Homo sapiens: one gene and its partners. The protein of the gene in region 3 interacts with the protein of the main gene of each other region in a pairwise test. Each region holds a gene or a part of one and is shown on either strand. Other genes may lie near its edges. The genes, in order: RSPH1, HINFP, MORN3 and NFU1.

What was found.
Region 1: the proteins of MORN3 (region 3) and RSPH1 interact in binary tests that used the Homo sapiens proteins (3 or more experiments, as listed by UniProt).
Region 2: the proteins of MORN3 (region 3) and HINFP interact in binary tests that used the Homo sapiens proteins (3 or more experiments, as listed by UniProt).
Region 4: the proteins of MORN3 (region 3) and NFU1 interact in binary tests that used the Homo sapiens proteins (3 or more experiments, as listed by UniProt).

What each region holds. Positions count from the first base shown.
Region 1 is NC_000021.9:42,486,167-42,493,224, reverse strand, and holds part of RSPH1 (radial spoke head 1 homolog), read left to right. Parts: intron 1-145; coding exon 146-259; intron 260-361; coding exon 362-467; intron 468-6,763; coding exon 6,764-6,854; intron 6,855-7,058.
Region 2 is NC_000011.10:119,124,525-119,131,582, reverse strand, and holds part of HINFP (histone H4 transcription factor), read right to left. Parts: intron 6,304-7,058; exon of another isoform or gene 5,816-6,303; coding exon of another isoform or gene 5,784-5,815; intron 4,649-5,783; coding exon of another isoform or gene 4,639-4,648; coding exon 4,458-4,638; intron 3,233-4,457; exon of another isoform or gene 3,135-3,232; intron 928-3,134; coding exon of another isoform or gene 859-927; coding exon 629-858; intron 49-628; coding exon 1-48. UniProt on the Homo sapiens protein: Transcriptional repressor that binds to the consensus sequence 5'-CGGACGTT-3' and to the RB1 promoter. Transcriptional activator that promotes histone H4 gene transcription at the G1/S phase transition in conjunction with NPAT.
Region 3 is NC_000012.12:121,648,242-121,652,654, forward strand, and holds the end of MORN3 (MORN repeat-containing protein 3), read right to left. Parts: intron 3,404-4,413; 3' UTR 501-3,403; downstream 1-500. UniProt on the Homo sapiens protein: Assembles a suppression complex (suppresome) by tethering SIRT1 and MDM2 to regulate composite modifications of p53/TP53.
Region 4 is NC_000002.12:69,395,598-69,399,465, forward strand, and holds the end of NFU1 (NFU1 iron-sulfur cluster scaffold homolog, mitochondrial), read right to left. Parts: intron 694-3,868; coding exon 649-693; 3' UTR 529-648; downstream 1-528. UniProt on the Homo sapiens protein: Iron-sulfur cluster scaffold protein which can assemble [4Fe-4S] clusters and deliver them to target proteins.

The DNA of each region.
Region 1 (7,058 bases), on a different chromosome or scaffold from region 3:
AGGTGGGAAAGGTGGGACAATTGAGTATAGTGCCGGGGGTTTAGCATAGTGGGATGACTCAAGGGTATGATATTTACAAAATGCTTAGCACCTGGTTAGCGCTTAATGAATGGTAGCTGTAATTGTGTCAATTTTCATTACCCAGGAATATGAGGGGGGTCGGAATGAGGCAGGCGAAAGGCACGGACGTGGGAGGGCACGGCTACCCAACGGGGACACCTACGAAGGGAGCTACGAATTCGGTAAAAGACATGGCCAGGTCAGAACCGTTGACTTGACTGGATGGTTTTCTCTATTTAATACTCTGTTAGCAAATGCTACATTCAGCAATGATATGAATGATATAATCAATGTGTTTCAGGGGATCTACAAATTTAAAAATGGTGCTCGATATATCGGAGAATATGTTAGAAATAAAAAGCACGGTCAAGGCACTTTTATATATCCAGATGGATCCAGATATGAAGGTAAAATGTTATCACTAAGCAGATTTTCGTGTTACAGAAGTTTTTCTTTCTTTATGACTGAACTTGTCTGTGAATACTGACATGTATGAGAAAGCTTAAAGTTCTCCAGTTACTCATTCAACGAACACAGATCGTGTTACTATATTCACAGTGTTGATGCAGAAATAGGAAAGCCTTGTAATTAATTAACTCACTAATGAATCTGTAGTGGGAAATCTGTCCCTGTGGCCAGCATGTCCATGTCCTGGGAGCAGACAAAAGGGAGGCTCCTGAGTGGACGCAGGCCTCGCAGCTGGTGGACCCACGGCTTCAGCTGCTCTGCGGCATTCATCTTCCTGAACCTGTCTTTGCATTTTCCATTTCTGACCAACCCCGCCATCTGACGGATGTGTTATTTCTTCAGATCGAGTGTTTCCTTACATCAGGGCTTCCTGTCTGGGAGTCTTCCTGCCTTGTTAAACTGACTTTTCCTACCTGTGCCATAAGTCCTTACAGGCCAATGTTATGTTTGAGGAGGATTCTTTTTCCTTTATTTCCAAGAACCTCCCTGCCGCCCCTTGTGCCGTTGTCACCTGGTGTGACCACATTAGTGATATCCCAAACCTGGGCAGGGGGACCGGCAGGGAGCGTGTTGTGAGTCTTCAGAAAGTGTATATAAAATTCTGTGTTCTGGGCTTTTTGTTTTTTCCCTAGGAAGAAAGAAATTGTCTAGTTTTCTTCAGATTTCCAAAAAGATCTGTGACCCTAACCTTGGACTCTGGTGACAATAGGTGTGAGCTTGCATAGGTGACTTCACATCTCCTTGCCTCAGTTTCTCATCTGTAGCATGAAGATTCAATGGATAAACACAGGGAGACACCTGCAACCTTGCCTGATCCATAGTGAGCACTCAGTAACTGGGGCTAGGACTGTGATGTACCACTTGTGACAGCATCACTTCTTAGTGAGGAGGACATATTCTTACAAAGTGCGAGCTATAGTTGCTTGCTTTGCTCCTAGATAAAATAAGAACCAGTAGGTGGTTCTTATTTTAATAGATGTCAGTGATGATTCTGTCCAATTCTGAGACCAAGATGGAGGGTTTTAATACCATCCCTGTTAGATAGAAATTGTTTTGTTTTGTTTCATAAATCCCAGAAGGCTTGCTCTATAAGAAGCACCATCTGCTTTTTAAATCAACTTTAAACAATTTAATTTGGGGCTTAATTTAATTCTTTCCAAATCCTTATGCACCTAATCTCATTCTTGTCACTTTTGATTTTAGTGTAGATGTTGATACAATTTGAACAACACACACACACACGAAGATATTTAGGATAAGGGATTTAAGGAATTTTGAATATGAAGGTTAAAAATGGGTAACTGTTTCTCTGACACCAAATGCATGGATTTTCCATGCTATGTACTTCTCCAGTCTTCTGTGAACACCAACTGAGTTTCCAATGATGCAACTCCATTCTGACACCACCCAGAGTTAGCACAGACCCCACAGGTTAAGGGCTCAGTTTCCAAGACTGCCCCACTTCAGATGTCAACCTCAAGTTGTGGATCCGGAGGGTACCCACAGTTCTACCTGACTCGGCTACAAATTGGGGGTTCCTACAACACCCTACTCAGGTTTGATAATGTGCCATAGCGGCTCATAGGACTCAGGAAAGCACTTTACTCATGTTTACTGTAAAGGATATTATAAAGAATATGGATGAACAGCCAGATTCAGAGGTACAGAGGGCAAGGCCTGGAAGGTTCCCAAGCACAGGAGCTTCTGTCCTTGTGGAGGTGGAGTGCACCACCCTCCTGGCACATGATATGTTTATCACCCCAGAAGCTCAACAAATCTTGCTCAAGAGTTTTTACAGAGCTTAATCTCTGGCCCCTTCCTTCTTCTTTACCAAAAGTTGGTGGGTGGGGCTGGAGGTTCTATCCTTCTTATCACTTGGTCTTTCTGGTGTTCAGTCCCATCTTGAGGCCATCCTGGGCCTCATTTGCATAAGTTCAGGTGTGGTCAAAAGAGTCTCATTTTGAATAACAAAAACATTTCTATCAGTCAGGAAATGTCAAGGGTTTTAGGAGCTCTGTGCTGGGAACCATGAATAAAGACCAATATTTCTTATTATGCCACACTAACATATAAAGCTCTTCTGGTAACAGTTGGGATTTTTGATTCTCCAGATGGCTTTGTATCTTAAAGGGTGCAAGATTTAGCCACTACCCAGAGATTTCTTCTCTGACAAAAGCTTAAATAAGTGTCTTACTTCATGAAGGCAGCAATGGAAACTGAGGTCAGAAGTTATAATATTAATTATAACATAGTAAGCCAATACTCTTCCAATCACAAAATCTCAGTTAATGTATGGCTGAGTTATTCATAACAGTGTATCTTGGCTGGCTGCCATCACAATGGGCCAGAATGGTTTTGTGCAGGGCAGTGTGTTCAACGTCAGGACCCTGTGGCATAAAGTCCAGTACCCTACCTGTCTCCCAGATGGTCACACAAGTCCAATTAGGGAGTCCAGGAGCCAGCAGAGGCTATAGTGCTGCAGGAGAGGAGTGGGGAGACGGTCCTGGGTGGCGGGTGACTTGGATACAGGCAGGAAGGCCGAGGTTTTTAGGGGTAGTGGGGGATGAGATGGAGGGGAGGGTGGGTGCCAGATGTGGGGGAGGCCTAGACCCCATGTACTGATGCTGAGGGTTGGGGGTGTAGGGCCAACTGAGGACTCTGAGGTTAAGGGGGAGAAAGAGCATCCCTATTCCCTGCTGGCCTTGTTGCCTGTCAAACAGAACTCATCAAAACAAAGAAGTTTAAGAATGACATTGTGGAGAAAGAAGAATGACATGATAACTTGAACCTGGGTTTTTTGGAAGCCCCCGAATGGCAGGAGCTGGAAAAAATGAGCACTTGACTGTTGGGATGCTTGTGGAGAAGAGAGCATGGTGTTAGACAGACTCCAATTTTCATTTCAGTCTTGCTACCCACCAGCTGTGGGACCTTGGGGAATGCATGCAGTCTCTCTGCTTTTCAGGTTCTGCATCTGTAAAACCATATTTCAGCGATTACACATACCAAATGCTGTGGCAAGTGCACGGAACCCTGCCCAGGGTCTGACACCGAGTGTTTCCCCATAAGTGTGGGCTCCTTCTCTCCTGTGTTTGGCTGACCCAGCAGTTTAGGGAGCCAACTTGGCAAGACCATGGGCCAGCATGGCAAACCAGTGACCAACCAGCATTTGAGGGGGGAGGAGCATCTTGGAGAGCTTCTCATTTTAAATTGTCTTCAATCCCAAGTGCCAGACAAACTGCTCTACCCAAGGAGCACCTGCTCCACACCAGCCAACTGACCCACAACCAGCCAATCAAACAGCCAACCAATCAACCAACCAGCCAACTGACTAGCCAACCAAGCAACCAATCAACCAACCAATTAACCAACCAACTGTCTAACCAACCAACCAATTAGCCAACCAGCCAACCAACCAACCAACCAACCAACCAGCCAACCAGCCAACCAAACAGCTAACCAATCAACAAACCAGTCAACTGACTAGCCAACCAACCAAACAACCAACGAACCAGCCAACCAAACAGCCAACCAATCAACCAACCAGCCAACTGACTAGCCAACCACCCAGCCAACCAGTTAACCAACCAACCAGCCAGCCAACCAACCAACCAACCAATCGGTTAGCCAACTAACCAACCAGCCAACCAGCCAACCAACCAACCAACCAGTTAACCAACAAATCAACCAACCAACCAACCAACCAACCAACTGGGAGTTACTCCTGAGAAGAAATATAGTTGGAAAAAACCTCAGTTGACAAGTTCAAGAATGATCAGAAAGTATAGGATTGGGGTAGAAAGACTTTAAAAAAAAAATTAAGTGCAAATTTAAAGCCACAATAATAAAGTTTACAAATGTCACTCACCTCAAAAAAGGAAACTTGACTTATAGCTGTTAGAGATGTGCCTCAGCAGGTGACTTTTCTCTGAATTACCTTCTCTATTTGTGCAGGGTCCCTGTGGTGGCATTACAAAATGCTGGGCCGAGCCTCTTAACAGGTTTTTTAAGTAGATTGGGACTTTAAAAAATTTTGCTCACCGTCCTCTTGGTGCAAAATTTAGTGTCTTTTGCAACTTAACTGTTCTCTTTTATTTTTGAAATTTTTCTGCAAAATATGTAATATATTTTTCTCACCATGACACCCTGGAGATCCTCTGACATGGCCAAGAGAGGAGGGATGTAATAATTTTGTCATGAAGTTTTGTTGGGAAGAAACCAAATGATGTACCTGTTTCAGCTGAGGTCTCTATGCCCCAGGGCTGTGCTGGAACCCCCTCATAGTAGCTCACAAAAACCCATTCTGTGCATCTCTTCCCAGCTCCATGTGTAGCTTGAAATTGGCCGCGGTGTGAGTATTTACACCACAGAACCTGGCAAATGTTACAAATCCAGGCACATCACTGCCCCTTAAGACCCAGACAAATCCCTCTAGGTATTTGCACATCCTCATGGTTAATTTAGGTTCAGGGACCTGAAGTATTTTTTACTGAATTATCTCAATTTGGGGATCTTCATCTCTCTTGTTCACATTGTTCCTGTCACACATCACATCATGGGACCTAGTCCTCTTCCTTAATTGTTAGCAGTTGCCACCTTCCCTCTCTCCATGAATTTTTGGTAAGCCTGCTCTTTTCTGAATGACTTACCCACTTTTTGAAATTGTGCCATGCAGCTTTTCGTGCTGCCTTCCCTGTCCTCAGCTGCTGCTCAGGTGCCAACCTTCCATCCTCAGGCTGGTGCTCGCGCCCTGGGGACATGCACTGTCCTTTGTACAGCTCTTCGTTCATCTCACAAAGTGCCCAGGACATTGTAGGTGCTGAGTAAATAATGGGATGATTGAGGAAATAAATATGTAGAAGTTCCTTCTGCAGATAAATTTTGGGGTTATTCACATAAACAAATATTACTTGAATAATTAGCATTTTCTTAGCCTATTGGGTATTCTTTATCTTCATGTGGAAGTGGGTCCAGTTTTTGTGTAAGCCAGAAGCTTATGTAAGTTTTGAGAACCTCTTTAAAAAAAAGAAAATATAAAGTTGGTATAAAAGTGAATTTTCATTTGCAATGATAAATCAAAATAAGTTAAAAATTTAAAAATACCACAAACATCACAGAATCTAAGTAGCCTGAGTTTTAATGTCTGACATACTTCTAGAATAGCTTTTCTCTACCTTTGTTAGCTAATACTCTTTGAATGCTTCTCCATATGGCAACCATTTTGTAATGTTTTCTATAGAGAGAATAGAAATATAATTCCTTCTTTTCTCTTTGATCAACAAATTGATCAACATTTGCTTTTTATTATTCATAGTCTCAAAACATATCATTTAGCTTAATGACTTGGTGTAATATGCACGTTTTTAAGAGCAGTCACCTTTGGGAGACCTCTATTAAGTTTCTTTCCTAAGTGAGCTGTAAGATTTGAGGACGTTTTGAGTTTTCTAGTGCAGGGATTCATACTGTGGTTGACAAAAGTAGTTTGCAGTTGTCCACATCATGGAGTGGTATTATGAATTTTATGATATCCTTGCCAATTTCAGTACTGCCTACCAAGCCTATAAGGACTTAGCAGAAGCCGTATGGAGGTGAGGAGGTGAGGGAAGAGTTCAAACAGAGGCATGGCACCAGCGGATGGAGCTGGTGTGCAGCTGGGGTTAGAGTGGCATGTTGGAGTCAGATGATTGGGTGGGAGATAGACTGAAATGCTGCCAGGTGGCTGAGGATAGATGGTCAAGCCCTGGAGTTGTTGCTGGATCTCTAAACATTTGCAAGGTAAATGAAGTGTGGTGTTAGGATCACTGGCAATGGGTCAGACAACCTTGGTTTGTCTCCCTCCTCGTTGCATCTTCGTGGTGCCTCTGACTAACCTGTGAAATGTGCTTGTCAGTACATGCAGGTGGCTGTGGCCCACATCCATACACCTCACTCTGTACCCCGTGAACTCCTGACTCAGCCCTCTCTTAGCCCACTGTCCACCGTGGCTCAGCACCTATGCCATCTGGCACAAAAGGAAGGGGTGGAGGGATGTCAGAGTGGAAACAGATAGCAGCCTTGGTCGGTGCTGTTAAAAATCTCTCTTCTGCAGGATTTCCTGAGCAGAAGGGGCCTGTGTGTGCATGGGCTTCATTTGCTTCACAACACATCTGCCTTTGCCATGGTTAACAATTTGAAGACATGGTACAGGGCATCGATCCCTTCTTCTCACCTGGGCTTGCCTTTGTGTTGTTCCTTTCAGGAGAGTGGGCAAATGACCTGCGGCACGGCCATGGCGTATACTACTACATCAATAATGACACCTACACTGGAGAGTGGTTTGCTCATCAAAGGTTCGGTTTCTATCTTGGGTCTTAACGGGATTTGCTTATGTAATGAGAACATGATGTCTGCAGATTGTTTACACTTACTGAGGAACAGAATCATAACAAAAGCCCAGTTACCAACTCTGCCAGGCAGGTCCAATCTTTCTATGGCTTTGAGGCAAGGATGCCTTTCTGTGCAAGTGTAGACTCAAGTATCTGACATCTGCACCT
Region 2 (7,058 bases), on a different chromosome or scaffold from region 3:
GTGTGCTTCCACATGCCGATAAAACCACTCAGGATTGTCGAAGGAATTCTGTGCCAGGGGCAACTTGGGGTGAGGACTGAGGGTGGGTAGAGGGACTCACCCCTATGTGCCCGAAGAATTCTTGGCTCTCTCCCAAATTAACTTGATGGGGATGGGAAATTTTGAGGAAAGGCACTGCACAGAAATGGAGGAGTGGCCGGGTGCGGTTGCTAAACCCTGTAATCCCAGCACTTTGAGAGGCTGAGGCAGGAGAATCACTTGAGGCCAAGAGTTCGAGACCGGCCTGGGCAACACACCCAGACCTTGTCTCTACAAAAAATTTAGAAGTTAGCAGGGCATGGTGGTACATGCCTGTAGTCCTAGCTACTTGGGAGGCTGAGGTGGGAGGATTGCTTGAGCCCAGGAGTTCAAGGTTACAGTGAGCTATGATTGTACCACTGCACTCTAGCCTGGGCTTCAGATCAAGAGCCTGTGTGTAAAAAATAAACAAATTTTAAAAGAGCAAAAGAAATGGAAGAGAGATACTAGCAGGAATCTTGGAAATATAAGGCATCCCTGAAAGGGACAAGGCATCAGAGTTAAGACCCCCAGCTTCCTTCCACCCCAATTACTGGCACTGCCTGCTGACCTCACAGTGCTCCCACAGACACAGGAAGTGGTCAGGGATATCAGGGATGACGTTCCGGCTCTGGAAGTCCAGGATGCAGGGGCCAAGGTCAGCCTGGCTTTGCAAGGCCTGCAGCCCCCACTGTTTCAGCTTGGTGTGGTAGCAGTGGAAGTAGACATGGCGGATGAGGTCAGCAGAACTGTCCAGAGAACAAAAGCCACATTCCTGCCACAAGCAGGAGAATTCTTCCTCTGTAGAAAGGGGTTTAAAAGGAAGAGTCTGACACTTTCCAAGGCTCAGGTCACCTTCCACCTGCAGCACTAAACAGAGAGTGAGGAGGCTGGACTCGTGAGGAGGCTGGACTCTAACCAAATTACCAGGGTTCATTTAGCAAATACCAGTATTTAATGACCATAAATTGTGTGCCAGTTAGAGGGACTATAACAAGTAAAAAGTGTCCCACTCCTTGCCCTCACATAGCTTTCAGTCAGGGAGAAAGCATATTCATCAAATAATCAGATCTATAAATATAAAACTGCAACCAGTGATGAGTGTTACAAAGCGGGGATATACATGGTGCTATAAAAGCATTAAACAGAGGTCATTTGACATGGTGTTCTGAGAAACGTCCCCATGTTGAACTCTGAAGTACGATGGATGAGTATCTGTAAATAGGTGAAGAAGTGTGGTCTAGGCAGAGGTGAGAGTGTGTGCAAGGCCTATGCCAGAAACAGACAGCAGAAATGGCCGGCACGCAAGTCCTCTGACTTGAGTTTCTGCAGTTCCTGATGAAGATGCTGCCTCTCGATCTGACACCTCCCACTTCTCCTTGTAAAACCACCACTCCTCCTTCCCCTCATGTTTTGCTCAAGATCTGCCTTCTCCAAGAAGGCCCCATCAACTCTTCCAATCCATTTCCTATCTCTCTAGCATCCCTAAGCACTGTATTTTCAGCGCTTTATATAAGTTAACTTGTTTTGAAACACAGATACTTTAGAAAATATAATCATTCCCCAATTTTGCCTTTGTATAAATATGACTTGAATTTTGAAACTATCAATTATGGTTCATAGTCATCAGACTTAAAACAGAATTTGGGGTGGGAGAAGGAGAGCTGCCTCCATATTTCCTGTAGAATAGAGTTTTTCAGACTGTGTTGTGACCCACTAGTGGGTTAGGAAATCAGTTCAGTGAACTATCAACCACATTTTGGGCCGGGTGCGGTGGCTCACGCCTGTAATCCCAGCACTTTGGGAGGCCGAGGCAGACAGATCACGAGGTCAGGAGATCGAGACCATCCTGGCTAACACAGTCAAACCCCGTCTCTACTAAAAAATACAAAAAAAAATTAGCTGGGCTTGGTGGTGGGCGCCTGTAGTCCCAGCTATTTGGGAGGCTGAGGCAGGAGAGTGGCATGAACCCGGGAGGCGGACCTTGCAGTGAGCGGAGATCGAGCCACTGCACTCCCACAAAAAAAAAAAAAAAGAAAAGAAAAATGTATTCCTGCCAGATGCAGTGGCTTATGCTTATAGTCCCAGCTGCTCAGCATGCTGAGGCAGGAGGATCACTTGAGGCCAAGAGTTTAAGATCAACCTGGTAACATAGCAAGACTCTGTCTCTAAAAAAAAAGTGGCTTTGGTCGGGCGCAGTGGCTCACGCCTGTAATCCCAACACTTTGGGAGGCCGAGGCAGGCAGATCACAAGGTCAGGAGTTTGGGACCAGCCTGGCCAATATGGTGAAATCCTGTCTCTACTAAAAATACAAAAATTACCCGGGCGTGGTGGCGGGCACCTGTAATCTCAGCTACTTGGGAGGCTGAAGCAGGAGAATCACTTGAACCCGGGAGGCGGAGGTTGCAATTAGCCGAGATCATGCCATTGCACTCTAGCCTGAGCAACAGAGTAAGACTCCATCTTACTCTGAAAAAAAGTTTTTTTTTTCCTTTTTCTTTTAAATCCTGCCACACTTATTAGTACCGTGACTTTGGGCAAGTTATTTTATTCCTCTGTGCCTCCGTTTCCTTATTTGTAAAATGGGTATAATAATAGTGCCTATCCCATCCTGGCTAACACAGTGAAACCCCGTCTCTACTAAAAATACAAAAAAAAATTAGCTGGGCATAGTGGCATGTGCCTGTAATCCCAGCTACTCGGGAGGCTGAGGCAGTAGAATTGCTTGAACCTGGGAGGTGGAGGTTGCAGTGAGCTGAGATCGCACCACCACACTCCAGCCTGGCGACAGAGCAAGACTCCATCTAAAAATAATAATAATAAATAATAATAATAATAGTGCCTATCTCATAGGCTCTTTGGGAAATAGTGCTTTAATGTAGGTTTAAAAAAGTACTGGCCGGGCATGGTGGCTCACGTCTATAATCCCAGCACTTTGGGAGGCTGAGGCGGGCGGATCACCTGAGGTCAGGAGTTCAAGACCAGGCTGGCCAACAGGGGCATCCTGGCTAACATGGTGAAAGCCTGTCTCTACTAAAAATACAAAAAAAAATTAGACGGGCGTAGTGGCACGCACCTGTAATCCCAGCTACTCGGGAGGCTGAGGCAGAAGAATCGCTTGAACCGAGGAGGCAGAGGTTGCAGTGAGCCGAGATTGCACCACTGCACTACAGCCTGGGCAACAAGAATGAGACTCCATCTCAAAAAAAAAATAAAGTACCCAGCAATACTTAACACACAGTAGGTACTATAGAATACAGTTCACTATTGTTATTGTTTTCAGATTGGATTTTATTAAAATCCCAGTTATTTGCTATTGATAAAAGGCATACCTAAAACATAAGTCAGACAAAGGTTAAAAAGTGAGAGATGGGGCCAGGTGCGGTGGCTCACGCCTGTAATCCCAGCACTTTGGGAGGCCGAGGTGGGCGGATCATGAGATCAAGAGATTGAGACCATCCTGGCCAACATGGTGAAACCCCATCTCTACTAAAAGTACAAAAATTAGTTGGGCGTGGTGGCGCGCGCCTGTAGTCCCAGCTACAAGAGGCTGAGGCAGGAGAATTGCTTGAACCTGGGAGGCAAAGGCTGCAGTGAGCCGAGATCGAACCATTGCACTCCAACCTGGCAACAGAGCAAGACTCCGTCTCAAAAAAAAAAAAAAAAATTGGAAGGTGGGAGTGGGGTTGGACTTGGTGGCACAAGCCAATAGTCCCAGCTACTTAGGAGGCTAAGGTAGGAGGATTGCTCGAGGCCAGGAGTTTGAGATCAGTGGGCAACATAAGCAAGATCCTGTCTCTAAAAAAAATTTTTTTAAAAATTGGCGTGTGGTGGTGGTACATGCCTGCAGTCCTAACTACTCGGGAGGTTGAGGCAGGAGGATCCCTTGAGTGTTGAAGGCTGCAGTGAGCTATGATCATGACACTGGACTCCAACCTGGGTGACAAGATGAAGCCCTGTCTCTAAAAAGTAAGATGTATTTCTGACTGGTTGCAGTAAAAGAAAAAAAAAATTGGGAATACTAGAAGAGTAAAAAAAAAAAAAAAAAAAACACAACAACAAAACACAGGTTGCCAACAACTTGTACAGAATGATTAAAAAAAAGCACATTCATCTGTATTTAAATATATGTAAACACAGGCAGAGAGATGTCAAAAACAATGTTCACTAAAGTACTGTCAGCAATTACTTCTTGATGGCAGGATGGCAGATTTATTCCTTATATCCTTGTTGACTGAGTTTTCTATAAATGAGTTTACAATGTTTTTATATACAACAAAAACACAATTAGGAAAATAAACCACCATTCTCTTAGGCCGCCTTCTCCCTCTAAGGAAAAGAAAGTCAGATTTTCCACCTTTCCTTGAGCTCCTCCCCTTCCTGTGTCCTGCTCTCTTACCAAGTGGGTCATCCTCCTCTTCCTCTTCCTCCTCCTCCCCAGAGCCATGCAGGTGCTGCTGCAGGTGCTGAGTGACATGCTCAAAGAACTTTTCCATGGTTGAGCACACAAAGGAGCAGGACCCCCACTCACACTGTAGCCACAGATTCTCCTTTCGGGGAACTTTCCCAGGAGGCGGCATGGCCTTCACCCTAGAGGAAGAGGAAGAAATCCACAGCTGCAAGAATTCCACCCAGGTGCTGCTGAGGGCAAAAAGCTGGGCAGGCAGCCTGCCTAGAATCAGCACGTGTTGTTCCAGTGACCCATGAGAAACCCTGCCCTTTTACAGTAAGGATGGAGTAATTCCTTAAATCCCTGGAAGATGTCTGGTGTTTGTGGAAAGGGAAAACAAAAACTAACACTATTGAGTGTGTGCCAGGCACTGAGCTAAACGCTTTAACAGACATTTTCTCATGAAGCTTCAGAGCAACCCACCAAGAAGGAATTATTCCTCTGTGAGGCAGAACAATGCTCAGGTTCAAACAGATGGCTTTTGAGAAGGATCAGGGTTCAAATCCTGGCTCCACTGTCTACCATCTACTAGCTGTATGACCTTTGTCAAGAACTTAACTTCTGAATACTCTCATCTGCAAAATGAAGATAATAAATCTTTTTGTTTTTAATTTCACACTTACTATATGTCAAGCACCACAGTAAGCATTTTATTTGCATTATGTCATTTAATTACCAACACCACCCTTTGCCGTAGGTGCTTTTTTTTTTTTTTTTTTTGAGATTGAGTTTCGCTCATCTCCCAGGCTGGAGTGCAATGGCTCGATTTTGGCTCACTGCAACCTCCGCCTCCCGGGTTCAAGCGATTCTCCTGCCTCAGCCTCTTGAGTAGCTGGGATTACAGGCGCCCGCCACCACGCCTGGCTAATTTTTATATTTTTCGTAGAGACAGGGTTTCTTCCCCATGTTGGTCAGGCTGGTCTCAAACTCCTGCCCTCAGGTGATCCACCCACCTTGGCTTCCCAAAGTGCTGGGATCATAGGTGTGAGCCACCACGCCCAGCTGGTAGGTGCTATTTTTAACCTCATTTATAGATAAACACCTGAAGTTCCAGAGGTCAACTGACTTGCTCACGGCCACACACTAGTGGTAATGGTAGGGTCATGTTGGGCTGACTCTAGTCCATATACGGTTCTACTCCATAGAGCCTACAGATGAGCCTAGAAGCTCCTTATTTCTTATTGAATCATAAGTCCCCTGCCAGACTTTCACAGTGCCATACAATCTGCCTTTACCTAACCTATCCAACGGTTTACTCCACCACTCTGCTAATACCTTCTGTTAAAATGTAGATTCCATTTGAACATAAAAAGCCGTATCTGTGTAGTTTATACTGCACCTTGGGTGTCTATACACTGCTAGGCATGCTTAGGCATGTAATAAATATTTTTTTTCTTGAGACAGAGTCTCACCCTGTCACCCAGGCTGGAGTACAGTGGCACAATCACAGCTCACTGAAGCTTCGACCTCCCCAGGCTCAGGAGATCCTCCTACCTCAGCCTCCCAAGTAACTGGGACCACAGGCATGCGCCACCACATCTGTCTAATTTTTGTTTTGTTTTGTTTTTGTAGTGACAGGGTTTTGCCATGTTGCCCAGGCTGGTCTCGAATTCTTGGACTCAAGCAACCCATCTGCCTCAGACTCCCAAAGTGTTGGAGTTACAGGCATGAGCCACTGCACCCAGTCTGTAATAAATATTTATTGAAGAAAGATAAACATGAAACTGAAGGTTCTCGGCTGTGCGCACTGGTGCACACCTCTAATCCCAGCACTCTGGGAGGCCAAGACAGGTGGATCATCTGAAGTCAGGAGTTCAAGACCAGCCTGGCCAACATGGTGAAACCCTGTCTCTACTAAAAATACAAAAATTAGCCAGGCGTGGTGGCACAAGCCTGTAATCCCAGCTACTCGGGAGGCTGAGGCAGGAGAATCGCTTGAACTTGGAAGGCAGAAGCTGCAATGAGCCGAGATCGTGCCACTGTACTCCAGCCTGGGCAACAGAGTAAGACTCTGTCTCAAAAAAAAAAAAAAAAAAAAACACACACACACACACAAACAAAAAACTAAAGGTTCTCAATTTTATTTCATTTTATTTTTATTTTTTGAGACAGAGTCTCGCTGTTACCCAGGCTGGAATGCAGTGGCGCAATCTCAGCTCACTGCAACCTCCACCTGCCGGGTTCAAGAGATTCTCCTGCCTCAGCCTCCTGAGTAGCTGGGATTACAGGTGTGTCACCACGCCTGGCTAATTTTTGTATTTTTGCTAGAGACAGAGTTTCACCATGATGGCCAGGCTGGTCTCGAACTCCTGTCCTCAGGTGATCCACCCGCCTCAGCCTCCCAGAGTGCTGGGATTATAGATGTGAGCCACCATGCCCAGGTAGCTCTCAATTTTAGATCTGCACACGAATGTAGTTATCCAGCGCCTGCGTGAGAAGTTCGGATTCAGGAAGGCAGGAGTTAAGCCTAGAAATCTGCCCTTTTAACTCAGCACCCCAGTTGTGATGCAAGCAGTTCCAGAAGCATACTTTGAGTAACAATTAAAGAAT
Region 3 (4,413 bases):
GGGTTCAAGGGATTCTCCTGCCTCGGCCTCCCGAGTAGCTGGGACTACAGGCATGAGCCACCACGCCCGGCTAATTTTTGTATTTTTAGCAGAGATGGGCTTTCACCACACTGGCCAGGCTGGTTTCCAACTCCTGACCTCAGGTGATCCACCTGCCTCAGCCTCCCAAAGTGCTGGGATTACAGGCGTGAGCTACCGCACCCGGCCGTCCTGGACATCTTTTACGTATTCCCCTAGGACAGCCACCTCCCTACTTCTGTAGGGATGCAAGATCCAGCTGGAATTATTTCTGGGCTAGGATCCTGTTGTCTTGGGTTCTTGTTCCTAAACTGGCCGGGACTCGACTCATCAGCCAGGCTTGTCAAATGCAGGTTTCGAAGCCCTTGGAGGATTCTGATTTAAGTAGGTCTGGGTGTGTCTTTGGAATCTATTTCTAACAAGCACCCCAGGTGCTCTCACACCCAGGCAACTTAGACAAACACTCCTAGTTAGGAGCACAGTCTCTTTAACTTCATTTTTATTTACATTTTGAATACATAATACATTCACATGGTTCCAAACACAACACTGAAAAGTTGTTCTTCAGCTCCTGTTCCCAAGTCCCCAATTCTCCCCAGAGACAACCATCTTTGCCAGTTTATTGTGTTTAAATCTAGCGACATTTTGTACATAAACAAGCACACCCTCTTCCAACATTTTTTTTTTTTTTGAGATGGAGTCTCGCTCTGTTGCCCAGGCTGGAGAGCAGCGGCACGATCTCGGCTCGGCGTGATCTTGGCTCACCACTACCTCCGCCTCCTGGGTTCAAGTGATTCTCCTGCCTCAGCCTCCTGAGTAGCTGGGATTATAGATGCACTCCACCACACCCAGCTAATTTTTGTATTTTTAGTAGAGACAGGGTTTCACCATGTTGGTCAGGCTGGTCTCGAACTCCTGACCTCTTGATCCGCCTGCCTCGGCCTCTCAAAGTGCTAGGATTACAGGCATGAGCCACCATGCCCTGCCCCCACTTTTTCTTTAAAAATGGTAACCCTTTACACTCTTCTGCACATTAAGAACAGCTAGACCTAAGTTTAAGCACAGTACTAGCTTGATGACTTGTGATCCTCCCTGAACCTGTTTCCTCCTCTAAAATGGCAGTAATAGCAAGACACCTCACTGTTGTCGGGGAGTGCCAGGAGAGAATGCTTGCTGCGAAGCTGTCAGCACACGGCCTGGAATAGAGTGAGTGCTCCATATCTGGAAGTTATGATTAATTCTGCATCCTAGGGTGGCCAGGCGGGGCTTCCCAGTGCCAGAGGTACAGACTGAGAACCACACCCTTGGTGAGGCCACCCTACTTATGACTTAGGGGGCAGAGAGAACCTCAGTAAGGTCAGTGGTGTTTATTGAGGCTTTACTATGTGCTATGTGCCTCTTGCTGAGGTCTTAGCTAGAATCGTGGTATTTCAGGGTTTCTCAACATTTTTTTTTTTTTTTTTTTTGGAGATGGTGTCTCGCTCTGTCGCCCAGGCTGGAGTGCAATGGCGCAATCTCGGCTCACTGCAACCTCTGCCACCCAGGTTCAAGCAATTCTCCTGCCTCAGCCTCCCAAGTAGTTGGGATTACAGGTGCTGAATTCTTTTTTTTTTTTTTTTTTGTAGCATGGTGATATTGCACTATGCTTAACCGCATCCCTGGTCTCTACTCACTCAATGCCAGTAGCCTTCTTCCTGCCTGTTGTGACATCAAAAATGTCATACATTGCCAAATGTCCCCAAGAAAGAGTGGGGCTGAGGGAGGACAAAATCCTACCCACAGTTTAAAACCACCGCCTTATCTCATCCTCACAGTAACTAACCACAGTAACCCCAGGTGGTAAGTACTGTTAATGCCCCATATTGCAAGTGAGGAGACCAACAGAACAGAGTTTGGGTGACATTCCTGAGAACACACAGCTCCGAGATTCACGCCCAGGCACTGTGACTCCAGAGCTCACCTGCCCATTATGCAAGAACATCTGATCTTGGCTGGGAGCAGTGGCTCACACCTGTAATCCCAGCACTTTGGGAGTCCAAGGCGGGCAGATCACGAGGTCAGGAGATCGAGACCGTCCTGGCCAACATGGTGAAACCCTGTCTCTACTAAAAATACAAAAAATTAGCCTTGGTGGCAGGTGCCTGTAATCCCAGCTACTTGGGAGGCTGAGGCAGGATAATCGCTTGAACCAGGGAGGCGAGGTTGCAGTGAGCCGAGATTGTGCCACTGCACTCCAGCCTGGGTGACAGAGCAAGACTCTGTCTCAAAAAAAAAAAAAAAAAAAAAAAAAAGGCCAGGCTCGATGGCTCACACCTGTAATCCCAGCACTTTAGGAGACTGAGCGGGGCAGATCACGAGGTCAGGAGTTCAAGACCAGCCTGACCAACATGGTGATACCCCATCTCTACTAAAAATACAAAAATTAGCTGGGCTCAGTGGCATGCGCCTGTAATCCCAGCTACTCAGGAGGCTGAGGTAGGAGAATCGCTTGAACATGGGAGGCAGAGGTTGCAGTGAGCTGAGATCGCGCCACTGCATTCCAGCCTGGGCAATAGAGGGAGACTACGTCTTAAAAAAAAAAAATCACCTGGGGAATTTTCTGAAAGCTCAGGCCTCACCCCAGATGAATTAGATGTGAACCTGTGAATCTCTGGGCATGGGACCTGGGCTTCCACAGCTTTGCAAAGTTTCCATGGGATTTCAAGGTTGAGAGCCCTGTGTTAGGCTGAGAAGTGGTCAGGAAATTTTATGATCTCCAATCTTGGCAGCCAGTGTGGCAGGATACAGGCCTTCTCTCTGGGTCATCTGGGTTATCTCACAGGGGACCTGCCATTTCTTTCTCTTTTTCTTTTCCTTTCTTTTATATTTTAAAATTTTTTTTTGTAGAGTCAGGGTCTTGCTATGTTGCCTAAGCTGGTCTCGAACTCCTGGCCTCAGGCAGTCCTCTTACCTTGGCCTCCCAAGTTCTGGGATTACAGGAATGAGCCACTGCACCCGGCCTAAGACCTGCCCTTACTCCCCCAAGCTAAACCCAGGCAGCCCAGCCAAGGCAGGTCTTCCCTCTTCTAAACCTGAAAGCCCTGCTGAGCCCCCTCGAGTGCCCCATCCTTATCCCATAGGCCCAGGCTTATACCACTTGGTTATTCTTTATTCTCATGCATTCCAGGATGAGATCAGAGAATGAAGAGGGTCCCGAGGACAGCCTGGGAGAGAAGCACCAGCCTTCCTATTGGCAAGAAATGACCCAGTGCTGGGGGTAGTGAGGGGCCCTATGAGGGTGCCGGGGTCATGCCTGGAGCTGCTGCTGACTCCTCCAGCCAGAGCCGCACTGGTCTGAGCGATCGGGTGACACAGGCTTGAATTTCTCCTGAAGCGTTTGTGTTCTCTGCAGGGGAGAGAGGGATGGTGGAGCTGGCATTTGAAAGACGCTGTTACCAATGTCCTCTCCTCAAACCCTCACATCATGCCCAGGAGGACTTGGACTGGACAAGACCCCACTGGACAGATGTGTAAATGGAGGCTGAAGGCCAACTGCCTTACTCAAGGGTGTTCAGAAGCCAGGAGACCACCTCCTTTCAACCCCGTGCCCAGCTCAGTTGTGTGGCCCAGGGTGCAAATAGAAGGTTTCAGGCAGGACTGGAATGCACTGGTCTTCAGTGAAATGGTTTGTTTGTTTGTTTATTTGTTTGTTTGTTTGTTTTTTGAGACACAGTCTCACCCAGACTGGAGTGCAGTGGCACAGTCTCAGCTCACTGCAACCTCTGCCTCCCAGGTTCAAGCAATTCTCTGCCTCAGCCTCCTGAGTAGCTGGAATTACAGGTGCCCTCCCCCACGCCCAGCTAATTTTTGTGTTTTTAGTACAGATGGGGTTTCACCATCTTGGCCAAGCTAGTCTTGAACTCCTGACCTCGTGATCCACCCACCTCGGCCTCCCAAAGTGCTGGGATTACAGGATTATAGGATTACTGTGCCTGGCGAGTTTTGTTTTTTTTGAGACAGAGTCCCATTCTGTCGCCCAGGCTGGAGTGCAGTGGTGCAATCTCAGCTCACTGCAACCTTCACCTCCCGGGTTCAAGTGATTCCCCTGCCTCAGCCTCTCGAGTAGCTGGGACTACAGGTGCCTGCCACCACACCTGGCTAACTTTTATATTTTTAGTAGAGATGGGGTTTCACCATGTTGGCCAGGCTGGTCTCAAATTCCTGACCTCAACTTATCCGCCTGCCTTGGCCTCCCAAAGTGCTGGGATTAAAGGCAAGAGCCACCACAGCCGGTCAAAAGGGGTTTTGAAGAGGAAGCGTCAAAAAGGACACCTGGGACTGTAGGAGGCAAGAAGCCTGCCCTCGATGGTCTTGCTCCCCCACTCCCCGACCCCAAGCCCTTTGGAGACCCCAGGA
Region 4 (3,868 bases), on a different chromosome or scaffold from region 3:
GCCTCCGCGCCCGGCTAATTTTTGTATTTTTAGTGGAGACGGGGTTTCACCATGTTGTTCAGGCTGGTCTCAAACTCCTGACCTCGTGATCTGCCCACCTCGGCCTCCCAAAGTGCTGGGATTATAGGCGTTAGCCACCATACCCGGACATTTTTGATTTCTTTTTTTTGGTCTTAAGCAGTTCTTTGCTACTTAATTGGGGGCTAGTAGCCAGATACCATTTTTAAAACAGACTTGTTTAGCTGTTTCTTAAGCTAAAAACTTCAGTAAAAATAGTTTTAGATATTTCACAAAAAGCTATTTTAGAATATTCTAAAAAGCATTCTGTTTCTTCCTGTATGGAAAAAAGTAAATAAATTAGATGGGGGGAAATGTATTTTAAACTCCTTCACACATATGCAAAGAAAGAGCCATGGGAAATGAGGGACAAAAATAAAAATATCCTTGGATAAAATCCACGTGTACAGAAGATGATTCAAGAGGTTATAAATAACTCATATGAGGTAAAGCAAACATGCAATATTTATATATCATTCTCTGAAGAGCATATTTTATTAATCTTCAAGTTCCTCAGCATATTAATAATAAAAACTTGATATATATTATCAACAAGTCTGACTGTTATGCCCAAAGAAAATCCAGATTATTTTAAGGTGAGTTTGCTTCTTTTTCATCTGATTCATCATCCATAACCTAAAACCAAAAAACAAAGACAATTTAAGAATTAAGAAAATGATTAGATTTTGCTGTTTTCCTGATTTTAATATTACTTCTTTACCTGATACACTCTATAATGAGGCATGACAAGCCAGTAAGAATAAATCTATCAACAGCCCCAAAGAACAAGGTTTGAATCATAACCCGGTATCCTAAAAACATAAAAGCAACCCCATCTCTACTGAAAATACAAAAAATTAGCCAGGCGGGCGCCTGTAGTCCCAGCTACTCGGGAGGCTGAGGCAGGAGGATGGCGTGAACCTGGGAAGCAGAGCTTGCAGTGAGCCGAGATCGCGCCACTGCACTCCAGCGTGGGCAACACAGCGAGACTCTGTCTCAAAAAAAAAATAAAATAAAATAAAAGCAAATTAAATATTTGGAAATTAATTAAAGCATTGATCACTTCTCCTTGTCTCAAAGAGGCTACCCATAGCAGAGTCTCAGCTGGGCAGAAAAGACTATAAATAATTAACTGGGGCCAGGCGCGGTGGCTCACGCCTGTAATCCCAGCACTTTGGGAGGCTGAGGCAGGCAGATCATGAGGGCAGAAGATCAAGACCATCCTGGCTAACACAGTGAAACCCCGTCTCTACTAAAAATACAAAAAATTAGCCGGTCGTGGTGGTGGGCGCCTGTAGTCCCAGGTACCCGGGAGACTAAGGCAGGAGAATGGCATGAACTGGGGAGGTGGAGGTTGCAGTGAGCCTAGTGCCTGGTGATAGAGCACTCCAGCTTGGTGATAGAGCAAGACTCCGTCTCAAAAAAAAAAAAACAATTTAACTGGTATTCTCTAGCCATAAGACTAATGTAAATGACTTTTTCTTTTTTTCAAAACCATCTTATTTACTTAAATATATTCTGTGAAGCTATACCAAATTGTTATTTTAAAAACATTTATTTTTATTAAAATGAATCCCCAAGGAAAGTGAAAAACAAAACAAAACAAAAAAACCCCACCATATTAGGAACTAATTATTTTAGTCTTACTGAGATAAAAGATCATTTTAAGCCTCAGGAAAATGTTACAACAGCTATTATCTTTCCATGAGTTAATGTATTACTAAGATAACAGACTAACTCCATTGGAGAAGGAAAAAGTTACATAAACCTAAGAATGTTTTTTTCTCCTCACCACACCTACTACAATTAGATGCCAATTCAAGTTTCTAATCTGAAGGCCAATTCATCACCCTACCCTGGACAATTGAATAAAAATGTTCCTCAGTCAATCCACCAAAGTATCAACTAACATAATTTTTTAAGGCATATAGATGATAATGGAACAAAGTAAGGTTTTTTTTTTTAAAAAAAATCTAGGCCAGGCACAGTGGCTCATGCCTGTAATCCCAGCACTTTGGGAGGCTGAGGCAGGTGGATCACCTGAGGTCAAGAGTTCAAGACCAGCCCGGTCAACATGGCGAAACCCCCATCTCTACTAAAAATATAAAAATTAGCCAGGCGTGGTGGCGCGCGCCTGTAATCCCAGCTACCTGGGAAGCTAAGGCAGGAGAATCATTTGAACTCGGGAGGTGGAGGCTGCAGTGAGCCAAGATCAAGCCATTGTACTCCAGCCTGGGCAACAAGAGTGAAACTACGTCTCAAAAAAAAAAAAAAAAAAAATCCAGATTCTGGCTCTGATCTGAGACAATCAATAGAAAAAGAATTCTTTCATAGGCTGTCTTTTTGGTTGAGTAAAAATTGGTATTTATTCCCAAGAAATTAATATTTTACATCCAATTTCAACAATACCCAATCCAAAAAATTTTGTCAACCAACTCATATTTTAGGCAGAATTATTCCTTAATTTGGAATAATATTCCCAAATACTTAATACAAAGCATGTATAGGACATTTGTAAGGCACACAGCTAGTTGTTGCAGAGGAACACAAAGACTTGGATATGATTTCAAGTCTCTTAGGGAGCTTCCACGTAAACATAAAGCTAAAACAGATACAGAAAGCTACATAAACATAAAGCAAAAACAGAAGCTTTGGACCTGTCAAAGAAGAACTTAATTCCAAGTGGGGGATGGATAAAAACTTCAAAGAGAAGATGTCATGTACTGGACCAAAACGATGGTGTGGAGGCTAAAGCAACTCCATCTTGGATGCTAATCTGCCACATTGACTACCCTCAGTTCTAGGAATGCCTCTAAGTTTTCTACTTAATTCTGCCTTTAGGTCAAAATAATCTTGATGTTATCCTAAACAAACACATACTTAGCATAAATCTTGCCCTTAAGCAAATTATAGGCTATTAGGCAAATAGCATTCTTGCCTTTTCCAGAGGGGCTGACTTCAATTGTCCTACACATATCTTCTGAAGCATGTATACCCATTCCTCCTGGTATATAAGCCCTGAGTCTAGCGGGTAACAATGCAGGAATCCATCATCTTGCAGCTGCCCGATAAATGGCTTCTGTTCCTCAGTCCCTATTAAATGTTTCTTTCTGACCAACTGGATTTGCCAGCCTCTGTCTTCAGCCTCTCAGCTCCCTAAGACTTTGGGGATAGGTCTATATAGACCTGCTCACTGTGGAACAGATGAATTTTAATACTACCCAAGGATGAGTGATTCCCAATGGAGCCCTTAAGGGCACAGAATTACCTGAGGTGGTCAGGCACGGTGGCTCATGCCTGTAATCCTAGCACTCTGGGAGGCCGAGGCGGGCAAATTGCCTGAGCTCAGGAGTTTGAAATCAGCCTGGGCAACATGATGAAACCCCGTCTCTACTAAAATACAAAATACAAAAAATGGTGGCATGTGCCTGTAATCCCAGCTACTCATGAGGCTGAGGGATGGGAACTGCTTCAACCTGGGAGGTGGAGGTTGCAGTGAGCCGAGATAGCGTGTCACTGCACTCCAGCCTGGGCAACAGAACAAGATTCTGTCTCCAAAAAAAAAAAAAAAAAGAATGAATTACCTGAAATTCTGTGGGTTGGAAATTTCTAATTTCCACACATCCCTTCACTCCTTGATAATCTCTCTCCATAAGGCCATGCTTTTTGGTTGAGAATCACTGCAGTGAGACTCATTATTACTGATGACAAGGTGCTGTGTTATACTCCTTAGGTATGTTGGCAAAAAAAAAAATGTTGATATTGTGCTACACGTAAAGCTCTAGAATTCTACTCAGTATAACAACAAACT